Regions from separate parts of the Homo sapiens genome. Here region 2 is linked to region 1. Evidence: fine-mapped expression QTL. A gene starts in region 1. The other region holds a variant in brackets. All regions are shown on one strand. Distances are from middle to middle.

Region 1 (10,012 bases):
GTCTCACTGGGGCATCAGGGCCTTTTTTTGTTTCCAGAAAGAATTCTTGGGCCGGGCGCGGTGGCTCACGCCTGTAATCCCAGCACTTTGGGAGGCCGAGACGGGCGGATCACGAGGTCAGGAGATTGAGGCCATCCTGGCTAACACAGTGAAACCCCATCTCTACTAAAAAAAAAATACAAAAAATTAGCCGGGCGTGTTGGCGGGCGCCTGTAGTCCCAGCTACTCGGGAGGCTGAGGCAGGAGAATGGCATGAACCCGGGAGGCAGAACTTGCAGTGAGCCGAGATCGCACCACCGCACTCCAGCCTGGGGGACAGAGCGAGACTCCGTTTCCAAAAAAAAAAAAGAATTCTTGAAAATAGAGAAGGGGGCCAGGCACTGAGCCTCACTCCTGTAATCCCAGCACTTCGGGAGGCCGAGGTAGGCAGATCACTTGAGCCCAGGAATTTGAGACCAGCCCGGGCAACATAATAAAAACCCATCTCCGTGAACCCGGGAGGTGGAGCTTGCAGTGAGCGGAGATCGCGCCACTGCACTCCAGCCTGGGCGACAGAGCAAGACTCCATCTCAAAAAAAAAAAAAAAAAAAAAAAAAAAAAAACTCTATGAAAAATACAAAAAAATTTGCTGGGCATGATGGCATGTGCCTATAGTCCCAGCTACTTAGGAGGCTGAGGCGGGAGGATAGCTTGATCCCAGGAGGAGGAGGTTGCAGCGAGCTGAGATCGCACCACTGTACTCCAGCCGGGATGACAGAGCCAGACTCTGTCAAAAAAAAGAAAGAGAGACAGGGTCTTGCTATGTTGCCAAGGCTGGTCTCAAATTCCTGGCCTCAAGCAATCCTTCTGCCTCCACCTCCTGAGTAGCTGGGACTAGATAGAGATGCCCGCCATGGCGTCCGGAAGTCAGGACCTTTGCACTTGCCCCGCCTCTGCCTTCACAGCTCTTCTCACTGCCCTCAGCCTAGGTAACTCCCCTACTTCCTGCCCACACAGCTCCAAAGGTCTCTTGTGAAGCAAAGCCAGGCCGCAGCTCGCTGACCACACAGAATCCCCATTCTCTCAACACCATGGCCCTCTTCCTCACTGGGCTTAGGACAGCTGCAAATTCTTTCCCCATTTAAAAAAAAATCGAGATACGGCCAGGCGCGGTGGCTCACACCTGTAATCTCAGCATTTTGTGAGGCTGAAGCAGGCAGATCACTCGAGATCAGGAGTTCGAGACCAGCCTGGCCAACATGGTGAAACCCTGTCTCTACTAAAAATACAAAAATCAGCGGGGCATAGTGGCGGGCGCCTATAATCCCAGCTACTCGGGAGGCTGAGGCAGGAGAATCGCTTGAACCTGGGAAATGGAGGGTGCAGTGAGCCAAGATCGCGCCATTTTTGTGACTGTCACAAAAAAAAAGAGATACAATTCACATACCATAAAATTGACCCTTTTACAGTGAACAATTCAGCGTTCTTTAGTACATTCATGATGTTGTGCAACCATTACTACTATCGAATTCCAGGACCTTTCTTTTTTTTTTTTTTTTTTTTTTTAAGAGATGAGGTTTCACTATGTGGCCCGGGCTGGATTCGAACTCCTGGGTTCAAATGATCCTCCTACCTCAGTCTCCCAAGTAGCTGGGACTACAAGCATGTGCCGTGTCCAGCTGTAGGCTTTTTCATGAACCCAAAAGAAGCTCTGAATGCTGCCGGGCATGGTAGCTCACACCTGTAATCCTAGCACTTTGGAAGGCTGGGGTAGTGGATCACCTGAGGCCAGGAGTTCGAGACCATCCTGACCAACATGTAAAAACCCCGTCTCTACTAAAAGTACAAAAATTAGCCAGGTGTGGTGGCACACGCCTGTAATCCCAGCTACTCAGGAAGCTGAGGCAGGAGAATCGCCTGAACTTGGGAGGCAGAGGTTGCAGTAAGCCGAGATCACCCCATTGCACTCCAGCCTGGGCGACAGAGTGAGACTCCATCTCAAAAAATAAAAAAAGAACCTATGCATTCATGAGCAGTCACTCCCCATCCCACCAGCCCCTACTCTAGGCAACCACTAATCTTTCTGTCTCCATGGATCTGCCTATTCAAGATACTCTATCAACATGGAATCATACAACACGTGGCCTCCTGTGTCTGGCTTCTTTCACTTGGTGTCATGTTTTCAAGGTCCATCCCTGTGGCAGCATGTAGCAGGACGTCATTATTTTTTAAGGCCCGGTAATATTCCACTACATAGACCACACTTTATTTCTCAGTTGATGGGCATTTGGCCCGTTTCTGTTTTCCGGCTATCATGAATAATGTTGCAGTGAACATCCGTGTCCAGGTATTAGTGTGAAGGACTACTGCAATTTGTATGTTGCACCTTCTCCCCCACAGGGCTGGGAGCTTCATGGAGGGGGTGGACAAGTCTGTCCTGTTCACCAGTGTCCCCAGCATTCAGCACAATTCTTGAGACATACCAGCCGTTCAACATACGCTTGCTAAGAAAAGGCTCCTGATTCTCCAGCCCTAATTCCTGTGGCTAAATTACTACCAGTGCCCCAAGCCTGCATCTCCCCTCTGTCCTCTGGCTCGTCTCTGGGGTCCTGCAGTGACGGGACGATCTCTTTCCTTCCCCAACCCCCATCATCAAATCCCTTTGCAAATCCTGACAGTTTTTCCTTCAAGTTGTATCCCAGGCTGGGTGCAGTGGCTCACGCTTATAATGCCAGCACTTTGGGAGGCCAAGGCGGGCAGATCACTTGAGGTTGGGAGTTCGAGACCAGCCTGGCCAACATGGGGAAACCCTGCGTCTACTAAAAATACAAAAATTAGCCAAGCGTGGTGGCGGGTGCCTGTAATCCCAGCTACCGGGGAGGCTGAGGCACGAGAATTGCTTGAACCTGGGAGGCGGAGGTTGCAGTGAGGTATGATCGTGCCACTGCACTCCAACCTGGGCAACAGAGACTGTCTCGGAAAAAAAAATGTATCACCAACCCATTTCTCACCAGTCCCTTCTCACCCTGTTAAGCCAGCACCATCTCTCACCCAGAGGCCTGCAACACCCTCCTAATTTGGTTCCCTGCTTCCATGGCTACCTCTAGAATCTGTTCTCACAGCAGCCAGAGGAATTATCTTAAAACATCAATCGGTCACATCCCTCCCCTGCTCAAAATATTCTCATGCAGACAAAGGCCAAAGTGCTCACCATGGCCCAGAAAGCCTTTCCCGATCCTGTTCCCACTCCCCTCCACACCCGCCCTCTCTCCCCTTCACTCCCACAGCTTCAGCCACACTGACCTTCTCCCTCTCGCTCGAACACATGTCAAGCATGCCGCAACCTCAGGACCTCTGAATGCACCTCCCTGTGCCAGGACCCCTTTCCTCCAAAATCCACAGGGCTTGCTCCACTCAGATATGACTTCCTCCACGAGGCCTACTGAGTACCCTCTCCATCCTAGTCCCTCTCCCGACCATTTCCTCCTTATTTTTCTTCACAGAACCAGTCAGGTCCTGAGGTTGTATATCAGGGTGTTCCCTGTGCATATGTTCTGTCTTCCTCGGGGAAGGGAGCTCCCAAGGACAGGAGTTTCTTTTTCTTTTTTTTTATTTTTGGAGACGGAGTTTCACTCTTGTTGCCCAGCCTGGAGTGCAATGGTGTGAATCTCGGCTCATTGCAACCTCTGCCTCCCGGGTTCAAGCGATTCTCCTGCCTCAGCCTCCTGAGTAGCTGGGATTACAGGCACCCACCACCACACCTGGCTAATTTTTGTATTTTTAGTAGAGATGGAGTTTCACCATGTTGGCCAGGTTGGTCTTGAACTCCTGACCTCAGGTGATCCGCCTACCTCGGCCCCCCAAAGTGCTGGGATGACAGGCATGAGCCACCATGACCAGCAAGAACAGGAATTTCTGTTCACTATTGTCACCCCAGTACCTAGAACAGGGCCTGGACAACACTAGAGCAATCAAAAAGTATTTGTCAAGTGAATGAATGAATAAATGAGCCTTCAGAGGCAAGACACTGTTATGAATGAAGTTTGCAGACAAGAAAACGTCCTGAAAGAGGTTAAACAACTCGTGGAGGGTCACATCCCTGGTGGGTAACAGAGGCAGCCCCCGTCTGCTAACAGTGGCTCCCAGCTCCTCCACAACCCCCATAGCCCCGCCCCTTATCATAACAAGTGATCATTTCTCCTCCAACTGATACTCAACTGTTTCCACCCTCCTGTTCCCTGAGCACCTATTACATGCCAGATCCTTCCATAACAGTTAAATTCTAAAACAACAACCATCACTGGGTACTTTACAGGGCTGCTGTTCAGAGCCAACGGAGTAAAAACAATAGCCAAGTTCCATCTGGGGCCTGGAACGAGTGAAAGGCCTGAGGGGCATTGTCACAAGCCCCTCAGGAAGATACTATCAGCAGTCTCTCTTGACAGATGAGGAAACCGAGAGGTGAAGTCCCTCATTCAAGGTCACACAGCCAGGGAGTGGCAGTGCTCAAACGCAAACCCAAGTCTGGCTGACCCCAGAGCCCATGCGGATGCAGCCTCTGAAGACTCCTGGCAGCTCCAATCACCCACAGCCATTCCCAGGAGTTGAGAGCTGACTTGCCGCCAGGATTCCCATCGTCACGACAACTCTTCCTGGCAGGGACCACCGTCCCCATATTACTGTGGTCAAATAGAAAAGGGCTCAGATCCCTGCCTGTCCTGCTGCCTGACCCCTGACCTCTCTCTGGGATTAGACTTCCCCTATTCCCAGCTTTCCAGATATCTACCCCTCAAGCACTTCAGAACCCAACGCCTTCCTTGAGGTCTGGGCGCTCCTTCTTCTACCCTTTCCCCAATCCCCTACTCTAATGTCCTCTTCTTTCCTGGCCCCCCGTTCCCTGTCACAGGTTCTCCCAAGACCTTACACCGACAGCTCTTTTCCTCTGTGTTCCTTGGGTCCCTCCTTTCCCCTCAGCTGCCCCTCTAGCCCCCTCCACACTGCCTTCCATGTCTTCTAGGCAATCTCCCACCCTGAAGCCCCTCTATCCTTCACCAGGGTGTCCTTATAGTCTCCCCGTCCCATCATCTCCCTGCCCCAAACTCATGGACTTTCAACCACTCTCAGGCCTCCTCTATACCACTGGCCAGGAGCCTCGGTGACCTATCTAACCCCTTTCCCCTGTATGACACCCCCTATCCCAGGTCCTCAAGCCCTGCTTCATTAGGCTTCCGGCATTCCACTTCCTCCAGGTCCCCTCTGGCCTCTTCCCATTCCATCGCTCCACAGGGCACCCCCGCCATACACTTCTTTCACTTCTTCTCTACATTGGGAATCCCTCTAACCCCATCGTTTGTAAGATCCCCCAGCTTTTCAGTCTTTCCCAGGGGACACCTCTATGCTCCCATCCCCGGGACCTCACTGGCTTCCTCCCCTTTCAAGCCCTCCCGGACCCCTCTAGCTACTCCGTGTCGTCACCTCAAGAGGCACTCTATGACACCCCAAGCCCCTACGTGCCCCCCACTCTAAAGTTCTTCCTGGGGCCCATCTATGCTGTCCCTATACGGCCGCAGAGGCTTTTGATCCCCCGGGTCCCTCTGTGATCCCCAAACCCCTCAATTTCACGCTCCCCCCTCCCCCGCGTCTCCAGTGTCCCCCGGCCGCGCGCTCACAGTTCCGGATGTCGGAGATGAACACCGCGAGCCCCCGCATCCCATCGCCCTTGGACACGGCCGGCATGATGGCGGTGGTGTCGGCTCCAGGCCTGGCCGGACAGGGCACAGAGCAGCGGGGGCTGGCAAGCGGGGACCGGGCGGAAAGGACCCCAGGCAGCGCCAAGGAGCCGAGCCGGCCGCGGGGAGGGCTGGCTGGCGGGCGGGCGGGCGGGCTGGCAGGCCGTGGCACCGCCCCCTGCCCCTCCCCTCCGCCCGCGGTCCGGAGCTCTGAGCCGCCCACTGGCTTGAGCTCCTGCCGCTCACAGGCGGGTTTCTCCCCCACTTCCTCTCTCATTGGCCGCCAAGCAAAGGCACGACGCTACGATTGGCCCAGTGTTCCGCTATTTCCGTTTGGGAGCTGGGGAGGGGGGGGAGGAGGCGTTGCCCGAGAGACGGGCGGGGTTCGATTGCGTATCATGGGCCCGCCCCCTCCGCGCGGCCAGGTCAAACACTGATTGGATCTAGCGGCTCTCCAAGGAGGAAGGGAGGGACGTGAAGGAAGGCGGGGAACGGTCCTAGGAGGCGGGACTTAGGTTGACTGGGACCAATGAACGGGTAGACCTGCCCCGCAGGCGTCGCGGATTGGCGAGATCTGTCCTACTTCAGCCCTCCATTGGGCGGCTGTGGGGCGGGCGGAAGGCGAAGATCAGTAGAGAAGGAAAGAGGGGAGGGTGTCACTCCGCTCGGCTGGGATAGGTGGAGCGACGCCTGCAATTCCCTGCTGCAGAGAAGGGGTTGGGCGAGGCAAGAGAGCGTGCGGTGTTTACTGCGCAAGCGTCTCCGTGTTCCCTTTCTCCCTCCACTGTCACCCCCGACTGCTGAAATCCTCTTCTAGGAAGCCTTCCTCCCCTCCCCCCTTCTCTGCAGCCAACGTGTCGGGACTTGAGTTGTCAGGAGACCTAGAATCTCAGAGTGAAAAACAGTAATTCAAGGCTAGTCCCATTAAGCAGAAGTTAAAACTTAGGTCGAGAGGGCGAATGACTTGCCCAGGGCCACACAGCTTGGAAGTGAAAAAGCAGAAATAAACGTAAACCGTATCTTGGCTTACTTTTCAATATATGTTGCCTTTTTTTTTTTGTCCAACCGCAGTGTCTCTCGGGCAGCCTCCATTGTAGCAGATATCAAACCAAAATTGATTGTCTCCTCCAGACTGGGAACTCCTTCTGGGCAAGAATGGGACCTGGCCTTGAACAGTTTCAACAACATTTGTTAAAAGAAGAAATAGGTGAATCTGCTTTGGCCCAGCCCCAGCCTCCATCCCCAACCCCCAGCTCCCCAGAGACTCTTTGGTAAACTGGCTTTGGGGAAGGCAAAACGGCCAGAACTCCCAACGCCCCAGGAGATTGAGAAATTTGGGACAAAGGGAACTGGAAGAGTCCATTTCTGTCACCTGTAGGAACAAAACTCCACCCCATCAGCCTTTTCTAATCTCAGAAGCCAAGAATTCCTGGAATGAGCCTTGGGGGTGTGTTCTGGACCTTTGGAATGGCCATTCTGAATCCTGGGAGATGGAAAGGAGGTTGAGAAGAGCCCACCTTCCAGGCTCAATGGATGCGTCCATTTGGGTTTCCAGGAATGGGGCCTGGGAAAGTCCATTTTGGATTCCAGGAGGACAGAAATTGCTCAGCTGTTTTAGTCACAGGGAGAGTCCATTTCTAATATGGGAGGGGGGTGCTGTTTGCCCCTGAAGAACATAAAGCAGCCCCATTAAACACAAGAAAAATTATTAATCCCAGGACTTGAAGTTCTTTTTTTTTTTTTTTGAGATGGAGTCTCGCTCTGTCGCCCAGGCTGGGGTGCAGTGGCGCGATCTCAGCTCACTGCAACCTCCGCCTCCCGGGTTCACGCCATTCTCCTGCCTCAGCCTCCCAAGTAGCTGGGACTACAGGCGCACGCCACCATGCCTGGCTAATTTTTTGTGTTTTTAGTAGAGACGGGGTTTCACCGTGTTAGCCAGGATGGTCTCGATCTCCTGACCTTGTGATCCGCCCACCTCGGCCTCCCAAAGTGCTGGAATTACAGGCGTGAGCCACTGCGCCCGGCCTTTTTTTTTTTTCTTTTTTTTGAGACAGAGTCTCTCTCTGTCCCCCAGGCTGGAGTTCAGTGACTCAATCTCGGCTCACTGTAACCTCTTCCTCCCGAGTTAAAGCGATTTTCCTGCCTCAGCCTCCTAAGTAGCTGGGATTACAGGCACCCGTCATCATGCTCGCCTAATTTTTGTATTTTTGTAGAGACAGTGTTTCACTATGTTGGCCAGGCTGGTCTTGAACTCCTAACCTCAGGTGATCCGCCCGCCTCGGCCTCCCAAAGTGCTGGGATTACAGGTGTGAGACACCGCGCCCAGCCAGGAGTTCTTTATTATAGAAAGATTAAGTGTTCCAAGAACTGGAGTCCATTCATGACCAGGAAGAAGTACTTTCTCCCTGGGGATAACAGCATTTAAAATGTCTATTAGCAGTGATGTTTGAACTAGTCTTTTTGAGAAGTGTGAAGAGAACAGGAAAAGTCTGTCCCTAAATAGCAGGGCAGTGCTCGCTTCGACAGCACATGTATTAACATTGGAACGATACAGAGAAGATTAGCATGGGCCCTGCGCAAAGACCACATGCAAATTTGTGACATGTTCCATATATTTTTTAAATACTTTGGGCGGGCGGGGCGCAGTGGCTCACACCTGTAATTCCAATGCTTTGGGAGGCTGAAGTGGGCAGATCACGAGGTCAGGAGTTGGAGACTAGCCTAGCCAACACAGTGAAACCCTGTCTCTACTAAAAATACAAAAAAAAAATTAGATGGGTGTGGTGGCAGGTACCTGTAGTCCCAGCTACTCAGGAGGCTGAGGCAGGAGAATCGCTTGAAACTGGGAGGTAGAGGTTGCAATGAGCCAAGATCACGCCACTGCACTCCAGCCTGGGTGTCAGAGCGAGACTCCATCTAAAAAAAAAAAAAAAAAATTATAGCGGAGCATGGTGGCTCATGTCTGTAATCCCACACTTTGGGAGGCTAAGGCGGGTGGACCATTTGAGGTCGGGAGTTTGAGACCAACTTGGCCAACATGGTGAAACCCGTCTCTACTAAAAATACAAAAATTAGCCGGACATTGTGGCCAGCGCCTGTAGTCCCAGCTACTGGGGAGGCTGAGGCAGGAGAATCGGTTGAACCCCGGGAGGTGGAGGTTGCAATGAGCTGAGATCGCGCCACTGAACTCCAGCCTCCATGACAGAGAGAGACTCTGTCTCAAAAAAAATAAAAAGTATTAAAGAAAATAATAAATAAATAAACGGGGGAGGGGGATACCACCCTCTGTCCTGCCCCAACTCTCTACCTTCCTCTCCTCCCTCACCTTCTACCCTGACCCCGAGGCCCACCGCACCTAGCTTTCTTTTGTTGATCTACCTGTATATTGCCTTTCCCCCGACCCCGACGCCCCATAGAATATGAGACCCTCCAGGTCAGGGTCTGGATCTCAGCCCTCTTCGACCACAGTCTCTCAAACCCCAGCCAATTGTCAAATCCAGGAAGCTACATGAAGAATCAAGAACAAGTGCACAGGGCTGTGTGACCCCACGCTTAGTCTCAGGGAGAGGGAAGTTGGACCTCTCCCAAGAATCCGTGGGCCGACCCATTGTTAAGTTACAGGCTAGCATGAATCCATCCACTGGAGCTCTGAAGACGGGGGGCACATTGGGCATGTAACTAGAATCCTGAACAGGAGGAGTCCACTGAGAACCCTAGGGGAATGACCTGGGCCAGCATCTCTCCCTACCCTGTGCCCCCCACTCACTGGGGCCCAGTGGTTGGGTCCTTTGTGAGGCAGGCTGAGGGGACAGTGGATCCTGAGGGTCTGTGGTCACAGTAGGTAGGAAGTCTCAGAGGAAGGAGCCCCTCCCTGGGAGCCAGACCCCCACACCATGGCGAGCGTGGTGGTGAAGACGATCTGGCAGTCCAAAGAGATCCATGAGGCCGGGGACACCCCCACGGGGGTGGAGAGCTGCTCCCAGCTAGTCCCAGAGGCTCCCCGGAGGGTGACCAGCCGGGCCAAGGGGATCCCGAAGAAAAAGAAGGCCGTGTCGTTCCACGGGTGGGTTTGTTGCACACTGTCAGGGATGGTTCTAATGCCCAGCACTACCTCCAACAGAGCAGGAGTCCGACTGTGGGTGCTAGAGGAAGGGGAGGGGGAAAAGCCAGCAGGTCGGGGGCAGGAAAGAGGGCAGCAGTGAAGAGACATCAAGTCACAGGGAGGTAGAGAGGAAGAAGGTAATGGGGATGGATGGAGGGAGGAAGAAGGTAATGGGGATGGATGGAGAGAGGAAAAAGCCAGT
Region 2 (11,780 bases), 43 kb before region 1:
AAATAGAAACACTTCATTACTATTATCTTTTAATTTTAATTTTTATTTTTTGAGGCAGGGTCTCTTTCTGTTGTGCAGGTTGAAGTGCAGTGGCCCAATCTTGGCTCACGGCAGCCTCTACTCGCACTGGAGCCACTCTTCAGCCTGTGGAGCAGCTGGGACCACAGCCGCGCACTACCACTTCCAGCTAATTTTTAAATTTTTTGTAGAGATGGGGTCTCACTGTGTTGCTCTGGCGTGTCTCAAACTCCTCGGCTAAAGCGATCCCAGGTGTTAGCCATCGTGCCCTGCCACTTTATATTTGTTTTAATAGAAAGAAACCTGACCAGGGCCGGACGCCGTGGCTCACGCTTGTAATCCCAGCACTTTGGGAGGCCAAGGCGGGCAGATCACCCGAGGTAAGGGGTTCAAGACCAGCCTGGCCAACATGGTGAAACTCCTTCTAACTACTAAAAATAAAAAAATTAGCCGTCCTGGTGGGCGTCTGTAATCCCAGCTACTTGGGAGGCTGAGTCAGGAGATTCTCCTGAACCCGGGAGGCGGAGGTTGCAGTCAACTGAGATTGTGCCACTGCATTCCAGCCTGGGCGGCAGAGTTAGACTCCGTCTCAAAAAAAATAAAAATAAATAAATAAAAAGAAACCTGACTAGTTTCACACAAACACACACACAAAATTTTGAATGGCCAGTAAATATTTTAAAACATAATCTTCGGCCGGGCGAGATGGCTCATGCCTGTAATTCCAGCACTTTGGGAGGTAGAGGCGGGCGCATCACGAGGTCAGTATCACTGGGCGTCGTGGTGCCCACCTGTAATCCCAGCAACTCGAGAGGCTGAGGCAAGGAGAATCGCTTGAACCCGGGAGGCAGAGGTTGCAGTGAGCCGAGATCACGCCACTGCACTCCAGCCTGGGCGACAGAGCGAGACTGTCTCAAAAAAAAAACAAAAAAAACAAAAAAAACAGGCCGGGCGCAGTGGCTCATGCTTGCAATCCCAGCACTTTGGGAGGCCAAGGCGGGCAGATCACGAGGTCAGGAGATCGAGACCATCCTTGCTAACACGGTGAAACCCCGTCTCTACTGAAAATCCAAAAAAAAAAAAAAAAAAATTAGCGGGGCGTGGTGGCGGGCGCCTGTAGTCCCAGCTACTCCGGAGGCTGAGGCAGGAGAATGGCGTGAACCCGGAAGGCGGAGCTTGCAGTGAACAGAGATCGCGCCACTGCACTCCAGCCTGGGGGACGGAGCGAGGCGCTGTCTCAAAAAAAAAAAAGTAATAATAATAATAATAATCACCAATTGAAAAGTACTTACAGAAAGCCTAATGATAAAGGTTTTTACCTTTATCATTTAAAATTATTTTTTATTGGGTTTCTATTTTTCTTTTATCTTTTATTTTTATTTTTATTTTTTTTTATTTTATTATTTTTTTTTTGACAAAATCTCGCTCTGTCGCCCAGACTGGAGTGCAGTGGCGCAGTGTCGGCTCGCTGCAGCCTCTGCCTCCCTGGTTCCACCGATTCTCCTGCCTCTGCCTCCCCAGTAGCTGGGACTACAGGTGTGTGCCACCTCGCAGGCAAATTTTTGTATTTTTGTTAGAGACAGGGTTTTACCATGTTGGCCAGGCTGGTCTCAAACTCCTGACCTCAGGTGATCCACCCGTTTTGGCCTCCTAGAGTGCCCGGATTATAGGCAGTGAGCCTGCGGAAGCCCTTTTTTTTTTGAGACAGTCTCATTTGCTGAAGCTTTTTTTTTTTTTTTTTTTTTGAGATGGAGTTTTGTTCTTGTTGCCCAGGCTGCAGTGCAATGGCACAGTCTCGGCTCACGGCAGCCTCCACCTCCTGGGTTCAAGCGATTATCCTGCCTCAGCCTCCCGAGTAGCTGAGTTTACAGGCATGCGCCACCACGCCCAGCTAATTTTGTATTTTTAGTAGAGCCGGGGTTTCTCCATGTTGGTCAGGCTGGTCTCGAACTCCAGACCTCAGGTGACCCGCCCACCTTGGCCTCCCAAAGTGCTGGGATTACAGGCGTAAGCCGCCGCGCCTGGCCTGCTGAAGCCTTCAAATCCATACAATCATATGATTTTACTCCTGTGTGCTTGGCAGGCATCTTTCCAATTTTATGAACACTTTCTTACATTACTAGTATGCCATTGTTACCTGTAACAAAATTAACTTCTTAGTATCATCCAACAGTAAGTGTGTAATCAAACGTTCCAATTGTCTCAAAATGTGTTTTTACAGTTGGTTTATTTGTATCAGGATCCAAACAAAGACCACACACATATTTAGACATTATGTCTCAAGTTTCTTTTCATCTAGAGCAGCCCCCTCTTTTATGCCTGTGTAACTAACATTTTAATAAAGTTGTAAGGAAGATAAAAGTAATCCAGAGAAAGGAAAAAAAATATCAATAGGCAAGAAGGAAGATTAAAATGGTACCTAGGCCAGGCATGGTGGCTCCTGCCTGTAGTCCCAGCACTTTGAGAGGCTGAGGTGGGTGGATCATTTGAGCCAAAGAGTTTGAGACCAGCTTGGGCAACATGGCGACACCCTGTCTCCACAAAAACTACAAAAATTAGCTGGACGTGGTGGGGGCACACCTGTAATCCCAGCTACTCAGGAGGCTGAGGCAGGAGAATCGCTTGAATCCTGGAGGCGGAGGTTGCAGTTAGCCGAGATGGTTCCACTGCACTCCACCTTGGGCGACAGAACGAGACCCTGTCCCCTCTCCCAAAAAAAAAAAAAAGAGAAAAAGATGTACTTTAGGAAGTAGGAAAATTAAAAATTATGCTAGAAAGATGGGCTGATCTGCAAGAAGGAAGAGGAAGGGAAAAATGAATCATAAATACTTTTGTCATTACAAGTAAATGCTGCCTGTGTAAAATAATAAAAATATTCATAAGGGCATTTTAAAAAGTCAGTAAAATGCTGTCCCAGCACTAGTTGGCTAGTCTGGAGGAGTTCAACAACCTAATGTACATCAATACAGAATTGGTCAAATCAATTTGTCACATCCATAAAATAGATTATAAAAATACATTATTAAGATGAAATAGACATACTTTTTCATGGCAAAAAAGAAAGTGTGGAAATGTTAGTATATTGATCATCTTTGTGAAAACGTATGAATAGTCTACGTTAAACTGTATTTTAGGAAAAAAATTGGGGAAGGGATTTTTCACATTTTACATGGTATGCTATCATGTATAAATTCATTACAGAAATGATATTATTTTTATTATTCTGGAAAATAAAGGATTTCCTTGTTTTCTTTTTTCTAATAACAAAAACAACCTTTTTTTTAGTGGTTACTAGGCAACGATCGCTGGACTCAACCACCCTCGAAGGTTGTAGGGGAGATGGTGTTTTTCTCGATTTCGCCCCAAGGAGGGTGCTCGGACTTCGACGTGCCGCCATCTTTGAGCAGGGCACAGCTGTTTACAGCCTTGGAATGGATATCAGGCTGAATGGTGGTTGCTTGGCAACGCCCCGCCACGGTCGCCATCTTTGAGTAGGGCACATTGTTTACTACTATATACTGGAAACCTACAGGGAATGTGGTTGCTAGGCAATGCTTTGGGACCATCGCAATCTTTGATCCGGGCACAGCTGTTTTTTCCGTTTAGAATGTAAATCATCAAAGCCTACAGGATGGTGGCTAGGCAACGCCTTGGCGCAGTCATCATCTTCAATCCGGCTTCTTGGTTCTCTTTACCTCCTCGGAGAAACTAGAAAGCTTTGCAAATTCAATTTGCCGCCATCTTTGTTAGGGGTACCGTGACTTCCGGCTAGGGCGGAAGAGAACCTAATGGGTTTGGGGGAGGTGCCTGAATAGGGTTTGAGGGTCTGTTTGAGTTGGGTGAAGAAGGCGGGAAGTTAATCCTCTTCCAATCAGCTCCCCATCTCGCCCTCTGGCGGCTCCGGACCACAGGCCGAGTTACTCTGATTACCGCCATGCTCCAAGACCCGCACTGACAGTCCCCACGTGAGGGACCGCGGTGGGAGTCCTAAATGGGGGAGGAGGGGACGGGCGGCACTGTGCATCTGCTGTGCCTCGCGGCCTCCAGCGGGGTCCCCCTATTCTGCAGGAGCAGTCGCGGCGGCGCCCCCGCCCGTCAGCAGGTGGGGCCTTGGACGCCTGTATCTAAACCGAAGGGGGTTCGGTGTTTTGACTCTGGGTCTTCAAGGCAGTAGGGGCTGGGGAAGTTTCAGTGTTGAATTTGTAGGACCGAGGAGGCAATGGACCAATAAGCCTGGTTCCCCAAAGAGGCACTGCCAGGTCATATGGAAAGAGGATGGGGCTGGGAGCTGGCACACTTGGGTCCTAAGGGGGAAGGGGATGGGGGGGTGCTCTTGTCTGATGTCCCTAACCCCTCCTTAGCTCCCGTTCTCTGTCATCGGTTCCCTCAATGGAGTCCACATGTTTGGGCAGAATCTGGAGGTGCAGCTGAGCTCTGCGAGGACCGAGAACACGACTGTGGTGTGGAAAAGCTTCCATGACAGGTCCCCAGGAGGGAACGTGGGACAGGGACAGGGCCTGGGTGATAGTCCCTGTTGAAGATGACCCCGGAGGCCTTCCAGCTCTCTAAAAGCAGCTGTTAATTTGGCTATGGGATCTTTAGCAAGCCAGTTACCCTCTTTGATCCCTGATGTTCTCTATAAGAAAGGCAGGTTGG[T/G]CTGAGAGAGGATGTATCTGGTGTTCTAGGATCAATGGGCGGACTCCAACATACCCCTTCCTGATTCCCCAGGCCTTGACTCATTCTTCTCACTTCCATTCCACAGCATCACCCTCATTGTTCTGTCATCTGAGGTGGGCATCTCTGAGCTGAGGCTGGAGAGACTACTCCAAATGGTGTTTGGAGCCATGGTGAGACTCACCAGTCCTCTTTTCTCCCCAGACCAGGAATCTGAGATCTCAGCATCCTTTTCCCTCAGACCTAGGAGTGCAGACCACCAACACTTCCTTCCTCAGAACCCAGGAATCTTTTGTTTGTTTGTTTGTTTTGTTTTGAGACGGAGTCTCGCTCTGTTGCCCAGGCTGGAGTGCAGTGGCTTGATCTCGGCTCACTGCAACCTCTGCCTCCCAGGTTCAAGCGATTCTCGTGCCTCAGCTTCCCAAGTAGCTGGGATTACAGGCACGTGCCACCATGCCCAGCTAATTTTTGTATTTTTTGTAGAGACGGGGTTTCACCATATTGGCCAGGCTGGTCTCAAACTCCTGACCTCAAGTGATCCACCCACCTTGGCCTCCCAAAGTGCTGGAATTACAGGCATGAGCCTCCGCGCCCGGCCAGAACCCAGGAATCTTGACTCCCCAGTCCCCAGACCCAGAAGTGGGAGTCCCAGCCCCCTCTTCCTTCAGACCCAGGAGTTCAAGTCCCAGCCCCTCGCCCATCCTCTCCTATATGATTCTTCTAGGTCCTTCTTGTGGGACTTGAAGAACTGACCAATATCCGCAACGTGGAGAGACTGAAGAAGGACTTGAGGGTGAGGTTGCAGGACATGAGGGTGGGAAGTTAGGATACCTGGGCACTGCCATTTGGGAACTACAGTTCCCAGCAGCCCCTGGGGCAGCCTGGTCCCACAGGTTCTTGGTTGTCTGACCCTGGGCCCACTTGAATCCTAGGCTGGTCCCTTCTTCCTCTCCTAGGCCAGTTATTGCCTCATCGACAGCTTCCTGGGGGACTCGGAGCTCATCGGGGACCTGACCCAGTGTGTGGACTGCGTGATTCCTCCAGAGGGGTCCCTCTTGCAGGTACTGGGGATGCTATGGAAACTCTTACACCTGTTCTGCTGGCCCTGGCTCAGTCCTCATCCTCTTTCTTCTGGACCATTGTCCCAACCTCCTCCTATCCTCTCAGCTTCCAGTCCTATCCCCACCTGGTCCCAGAAGAATCTTTTTTCTTTTTTTTTTTTCTTTTCTTTCTCTTTCTTTTCTTTTTTCTTTTCTTTCTCTCTTTTTATTTGAGACGTAGTTTCACTCTTGTTGCCCAGGCTGGAGTACAATGGCACCATCTCGGCTCACTGCAGCCTGCGCCTCCCGGGTTCAAGTAATTCTCCTGCCTCAGCTTCCCGAGCAGCTGGGATTACAGGCGCCCACCACTACGCCCGGCTAATTTTTTGTATTTTTAGTAGAGACAGGGTTTCACCATGTTGGCCAAGCTGGTCTCGAACTTCTTACCTCAGGTGATCCACCTGCCTTGGCCTCCCACAGTGCTGGGATGACAGGCGTGAGCCACTGCGCCTGGGCCATCTTTCTTTCTTTTCTGAGACAGGGTCTTGCTCTGTCATCCAGGCTAGAGCACAGTGGCTCAGTCATAGCTCACTGCAGCCTTGAACTCCTGGATTCAAGTGATCCTCTCATCTCAGCCTCCCCAGTAGCTGACACTATAGGCACTGTGCCACCACATTCAGCTATTTTTTTTTTTTTTTTTTTTTTGAGACAGAGTCTTACACTGTCACAGGGGCTGGAGTGCAATGGCGCAATCTTGGCTCACTGCAACCTCTGCCTCCTGGGTTCAAACGATTCCCCTGCCTCAACCTCCCGAGTAGCTAGGATTATAAGCGCTGGTCACCACGCCTGGCCCAGCTAATTTTTTGTATTTTTAGTAGAGACAGGGTTTCACTATGTTGGCCAGGCTGGTCTTGAACGCCTGACCTCGTGATCCACCCGCCTCAGCCTCCCAAAGTGCTGGGATTACAGGCATGAGCCACCGCGCCCGGCTGACATTCAGCTATTTTTTTTTTTAAGAGATGGACTAGGGTTGGGGATGGGTTTCCATTAAGTTGCCCGGGCTGGTCTCGAACTCCTGGGCTCAAGCAGTCCTCCCGCCTCAGCCTCCCATAGTGCTGGGATGACAGGTGTGAGCCATCACACCCGGCCACCAGAAGAACCCTACTATATCCAGAGCTGGCTCTGCCCCTTTCCTGCTCACAGCCCTCCGGCAGCCTCCACCTCCCCCAGGACAAGGTCCCAGCTCCTCAGCCTGGTGTTTGAAGGCCTGTGGCACCTGGCACCCCCTAACCTGTTGCTAAATCCACAGTCTACTTCCACCCAGCTACCTCACAGTCCTGAGATCCCAACAAGTTTCCAACCTCAGTGCATGTTCTTCCTCCTGCCTCTCAGATCTCTAGCTACCTCTACTTAAATACTGCTCTTGTGGACTTGCCTGGTGTGGCGGCCTCCCAGGCATGTGACTCTCAGCAGGTGACTTGGCTTCTCTACGTTGCTAATGGTGCCTACTCGGCATGTAACAGGCCTGGATGAACGGTAGCTGCTGCGGTTACATTATTAGCTTCAGTTTGCCCGCCCAGGCTAGATGTTTAATCAGATTTCACAGACTTCACAGTGTGAGTTGGGGATGTGACTTCGTATGAAAGTGAAGGAACTCAGGCTCAGAGAGGGTGAGACGTAGGAGCATGGCCACTGCGCGAGCTCGGGGCTGGCTGTGGGTTTCTCCCCATTCCCTGCCCATCTGGGAAGTCGCTGCCACCCCCTACGCTTGTCTGCTGACTCCCAGTCCTCCTGCCTCCCGTACCCAGGAAGCCCTCTCCGGGTTCGCTGAGGCCGCGGGCACGACCTTCGTCAGTCTGGTGGTGTCCGGCCGGGTGGTGGCAGCAACAGAGGGTTGGTGGCGGCTGGGGACGCCCGAGGCCGTGCTGCTCCCCTGGCTGGTGGGGTCCCTGCCGCCGCAGACCGCTCGCGACTACCCGGTGTACCTGCCGCACGGGAGCCCCACGGTGAGTGGGTGGCGGGCACCGACGGAGGGATGTGACCTGGGGGCCGAGTCGCGAGGAGGCGGGATCTGCGATGGAAAGGGGCCGGGCCGCGATGAGCCCCAGCCTGTGCCCTGCTTCAGGTCCCACACCGGCTCCTGACCCTGACTCTGCTGCCGAGCCTGGAGCTGTGTCTACTCTGCGGGCCGAGCCCACCCCTCAGCCAGTTGTATCCACAGGTGAACCCGCGCCACGTCCCGCTTTCGCTCTTAGGACACCCGCTACCAGGAGGGCCCTTCCCCACCACCCTGCCCTGCCAGCGGCATCTTTCCCCAGCCCCGCCTCTTCTGGACTGCGCTCCAGTCATTCACCTACCCGCCAAGATCGGCCGCTCCCGCCTCTGCCTCTATTCTTCCAGGCCTCGCCCCTTCCCCAGTCCCTTCTGCCCTCCGCCCTCCACTCTTCTTGCAGGCCCCGCCCCTCCCGATTGACCACGCCCCTATCCTTGTACACCCCCCGACCTCCCCCGCCGGCCCCGCCTTCCCATGACGACCTCACAATGACCACGCCCCCTGCAGCTTCTGGAGCGCTGGTGGCAGCCACTGCTGGACCCGTTGCGGGCCTGTCTGCCGTTGGGACCCCGGGCGCTGCCCAGTGGCTTCCCCCTTCACACAGACATCCTCGGGTAGGGCTCGGATGGAGGGAGTGGGTCGGGGGTCATGTCCTCTTCCCCAGCCATGACATTCCCTTCCCTTTCCCACAGGCTGCTGCTCCTCCACCTGGAACTGAAGCGCTGCCTCTTCACCGTGGAGCCCTTGGGGGATAAAGGTGACTGAGGACAGGGGCAGGGGCAGGGGTAGGAGGGGCGTGGGCCGGGGAGGCGCTCTGCATCACCGCCTTTTCCTCCCAGCAGAGCCTTCACCAGAACAGCGCCGGCGCCTCCTCCGAAACTTCTATACCCTGGTCACCTCCACGCACTTCCCACCAGGTCAGCGGAAGGCACAGTGCTCCCACTGCGCAGGCGGGGACACTGAGTCCCAGGTCGCACAAAATGGGAGTAGGAGGTGGGGTTGGAGGATCCGGAGGAACCCAGTATGCACTGGGCCATAGGGCAGTGGTTTTCCTTGAGATCTGAGCATTGATGCAGATGGGAAGGGAGGGGAAGGGAGGTCCCCGCCTGGCTTCAGAATCTCCTGGATCATAGTCAACAATAGTTAACACTGAGACCTCACCTCTTCCCAGTGCCTTTACACGTAATGAAAGAATGAAATCACTTCATCCTCACAGGTGAGGACTATCCCATTACCTCATCATTCCCATATTACAGATGAGGAAACTGAGGCTCAGCTCATGAGTGGCAGAGCCATATTTGAACACAGGGGATCTTGCTCCCATATCCACACAGTCCAGCGCTCTGCACAACTGCCAAAAGCACAGGCTTTGCTGATAGGCTGAGGGTATGGAGGAGGATTTCACAAGATTCTGGGTTAGAACGGAAAAATTGTCGTAGAACCCTTAAGGGCCCAGAAAGACAAAGAAAGGGACCTGGGATGGCGCTGTGACCCCAGTGAAGCCCGGATGAATGCAGCACAGTGGTCAAGAGCTCCAACTCGGGGGCTGCACCCCTTCTTAGCTGTGCGACTCCACCTCCCACTGGCCCCTGCCTGTTTCCCTCCACCCGCCTTGTACAGTGGGGCGGGTGGGCTCCTGGAAAAGGCTACAGGAGCTCCTGTGTTGCTGCCGTGTTCGCCATGTGTATTGCTAAGAGGATCACCTGCAGCTGCACAGTTTCTCCAGGAAAATGGGGGCCAAGGCTGAGAAAGAGGAAGAGGGTGAGCTGAGTGACATCATTGTGGTCTTCAAGTTGCTGACAGCCAGCTAGAGCCCCGAGGCCCTCCCCTGGCAGGAGGCTCCCAAAACCTGTGTTCAGAGACCCCACGCGTTCAGAACTTGGGATCAGGATGTGGTGTGGCTTGCAAAGGTTAGCATGCTACTTGTCATGTCAGTGCCCCCTGTTCTTTCTCCAGAGCCAGGGCCACCAGAGAAGACAGAAGATGAGGTCTACCAGGCCCAGCTGCCCAGAGCTTGCTACCTGGTGTTGGGGACTGAGGAACCAGGCACAGGAGTGCGTCTGGTGGCCTTGCAGCTGGGGCTTCGGCGGCTGCTGCTGCTGCTGTCTCCCCAGAGTCCCACCCATGGGCTGCGAAGCCTGGCCACCCACACTCTGCATGCCCTCACCCCACTTCTTTGACTACCTAGCAGTGGGTGATGGACACAGACATGGGGCTGTTAGCGTCTCTCTGTTTATTCGCTCACAATAATACACAGCCCCTGGATGGGGAGGGGGTAGGAGGGGCTACAACAGGGTGGGGTGGGAGGGGAGGAGACATCCACTTCCCTGGCCCCTCTCCCCTCTGTGCTTGGGGGGGAAAGGGAGGGAGGGGGACTCCCCCTAACCCCCCAGAATGTAAACAGCAGCAGATGAACAAAAATAAAAATACAAAAGGCCGGAGGAAAGTCCCAGGCATCCCCCAAACCCTGGTGTCTTCTCTGTCACCAGTGGAGGTCCCCCATCCACCAAAACTGCCTCAGTCCAAGGGGCTGCCCAGTGCCGGCCACATCCCCCGGGGCAGAGTCCAGGGCTCAGAACTGCTGTGCCAGCAGCTCACACAGGTGACGGGAGACGGGCTCCTTGCTGGTGCGCAGGGTCAGCCGGTACATCTGGGTGGGGGCATTGGGGGCAGAACTCAGAGGAGATGGGGAGCCCAGGGAAGTCGGGACCCAAGGGAGATAGAAGGAAGGAAGGATAAAGGGGCCAGAAAGGTGATACAAGACACAGGAGAGAAAAATGTAAGACTGAAATCAACAGAGGCGCCAGAGAGGAAGAAAATTATAAAAGATGAGAGAAAGGTGGAAAGGATATGGAAAGGTAGAAATCAGGGAGGGACAGGAAGAGGAGAGGAACACCAGAGGTTGGAGACAGGAGATTAAACTGATAGATAAAGAGGAGTAAAAGTGGACAAAGAAATGTGAGAGGAGGAGGGTCAAAGTGGGGACGTGAATTAAAGAACAGTGAGGCAGGAAGGGTGGACGCAGAGATGACAGGCGGCCTTCCTGCCGGCCTCAGGCCTCCCACAGCAGCACTCACCTGGGCCTGGGCATTGGGCTCCAGCCGAAGCAGACAGCCCACCTGCAGGGCTTTAGTCTGGATGATCCCCGCCCCCACGAAGTTCTCAGGGTTGGGGTCCACATTGTCCAGGAGAGCAGAGCCAAACCCCAGAAGCTGGGAGGAGGGGGGGCGCCGTCAGAGTGTGCCAGAGCTGTTAGTTACCACACAGTGGCATCCCAGATCCCAAAAAACCCTTGGGGATGGGAATTGGCCCCACTTTACAGATGGGAAAACAGAGGCTCAGAGAAGCAAAGCAGCCATAGGCCGGCAAACACGCCCGCGGTCTCTCACCTTGGCCTTAGTAACTTCTGCGTCCATGGGGTGGTTGGCTTTGAAGATTTTCTGCGCCTCCTGTTGAGGGCTGGGGACCGGGAAGGTTCAAGTCAGGGACCTGGACGGCCCGACCCGCCCACCCAGAGGCGCGGCTTTGGCTCCGCCCCCTCCCCACCCCTCACAGGCTCAGCTGCTTCCAGCGCTGGAAGAAATCCTGGGCCGCCATCTCGGTGGGCTGGAAGAACTTGTTGATGGTCACTGGGAGCTTCAGGGTGAGGGCCTGGGGGGCGCCACCGTACCTGATGAGGTGAAAGGGAGGCTCCATTAGGCCCCGCCCCTCACCCCGGAGGCTCCGCCCACCGGCCGCGCCGTACCTGACTCACCGGAAGCGCACGGACAGCAGCGGGGGCGTCAGGAAGTCCCGCAGGCACTCGATATTGAGCACCTGCTGCACCTGCGCGCCGCCGTCCACCTGCGCCGCCACGCGCTTGGTCTGCACAGCCAGCTGTGCCCGCCAGGAGTCAAGGAAGCCAGACAGAGGAGGTGGGCCCCCGGGAGGTCTGGGTCAGGAACCCCAGAGCTCCCGGCAGCTCCCGCCTGCAGGTCTTTGAGGGACCCCATGGT

The links. PIP is the estimated chance that this variant, and not a neighbour inherited with it, causes the effect.
Region 2: its variant is fine-mapped to the expression of AP2A1 in pancreas (GTEx, PIP 0.94).

Annotation. Positions count from the first base shown.
Region 1 is chr19:49,762,837-49,772,848 of GRCh38, reverse strand. It overlaps AP2A1 (adaptor related protein complex 2 subunit alpha 1), which reads right to left and starts at 5,848. Exons shown (of 23, transcript NM_130787.3): 1 at 5,649-5,848. The coding sequence starts at 5,715. TSKS (testis specific serine kinase substrate) reads left to right here and starts at 9,543. Exons shown (of 11, transcript NM_021733.2): 1 at 9,543-9,771. The coding sequence starts at 9,602. It also overlaps the pseudogene RNU6-841P. RefSeq lists enhancers at 520-1,444, 5,384-6,152, 6,206-7,183 and a silencer at 5,714-6,293.
Region 2 is chr19:49,805,336-49,817,115 of GRCh38, reverse strand. FUZ (fuzzy planar cell polarity protein) reads left to right here and starts at 3,824. Exons shown (of 11, transcript NM_025129.5): 1 at 3,824-4,120; 2 at 4,380-4,501; 3 at 4,781-4,865; 4 at 5,417-5,485; 5 at 5,649-5,753; 6 at 7,541-7,738; 7 at 7,858-7,953; 8 at 8,293-8,399; 9 at 8,478-8,542; 10 at 8,628-8,702; 11 at 9,742-10,250. The coding sequence starts at 4,010. The coding sequence ends at 9,965. It overlaps LOC105372435 (a long non-coding RNA gene), which reads right to left and starts at 8,196. Exons shown (of 2, transcript NR_187900.1): 1 at 8,090-8,196; 2 at 7,290-7,803. It overlaps AP2A1 (adaptor related protein complex 2 subunit alpha 1), which reads right to left. Exons shown (of 23, transcript NM_130787.3): 19 at 11,540-11,663; 20 at 11,339-11,455; 21 at 11,175-11,244; 22 at 10,863-10,997; 23 at 10,002-10,435. The coding sequence ends at 10,358. RefSeq lists enhancers at 3,261-3,310, 3,521-3,760, 3,147-3,953, 7,970-8,069 and a silencer at 7,620-7,789. The variant T/G (reference allele first, on the strand shown) is at 4,675.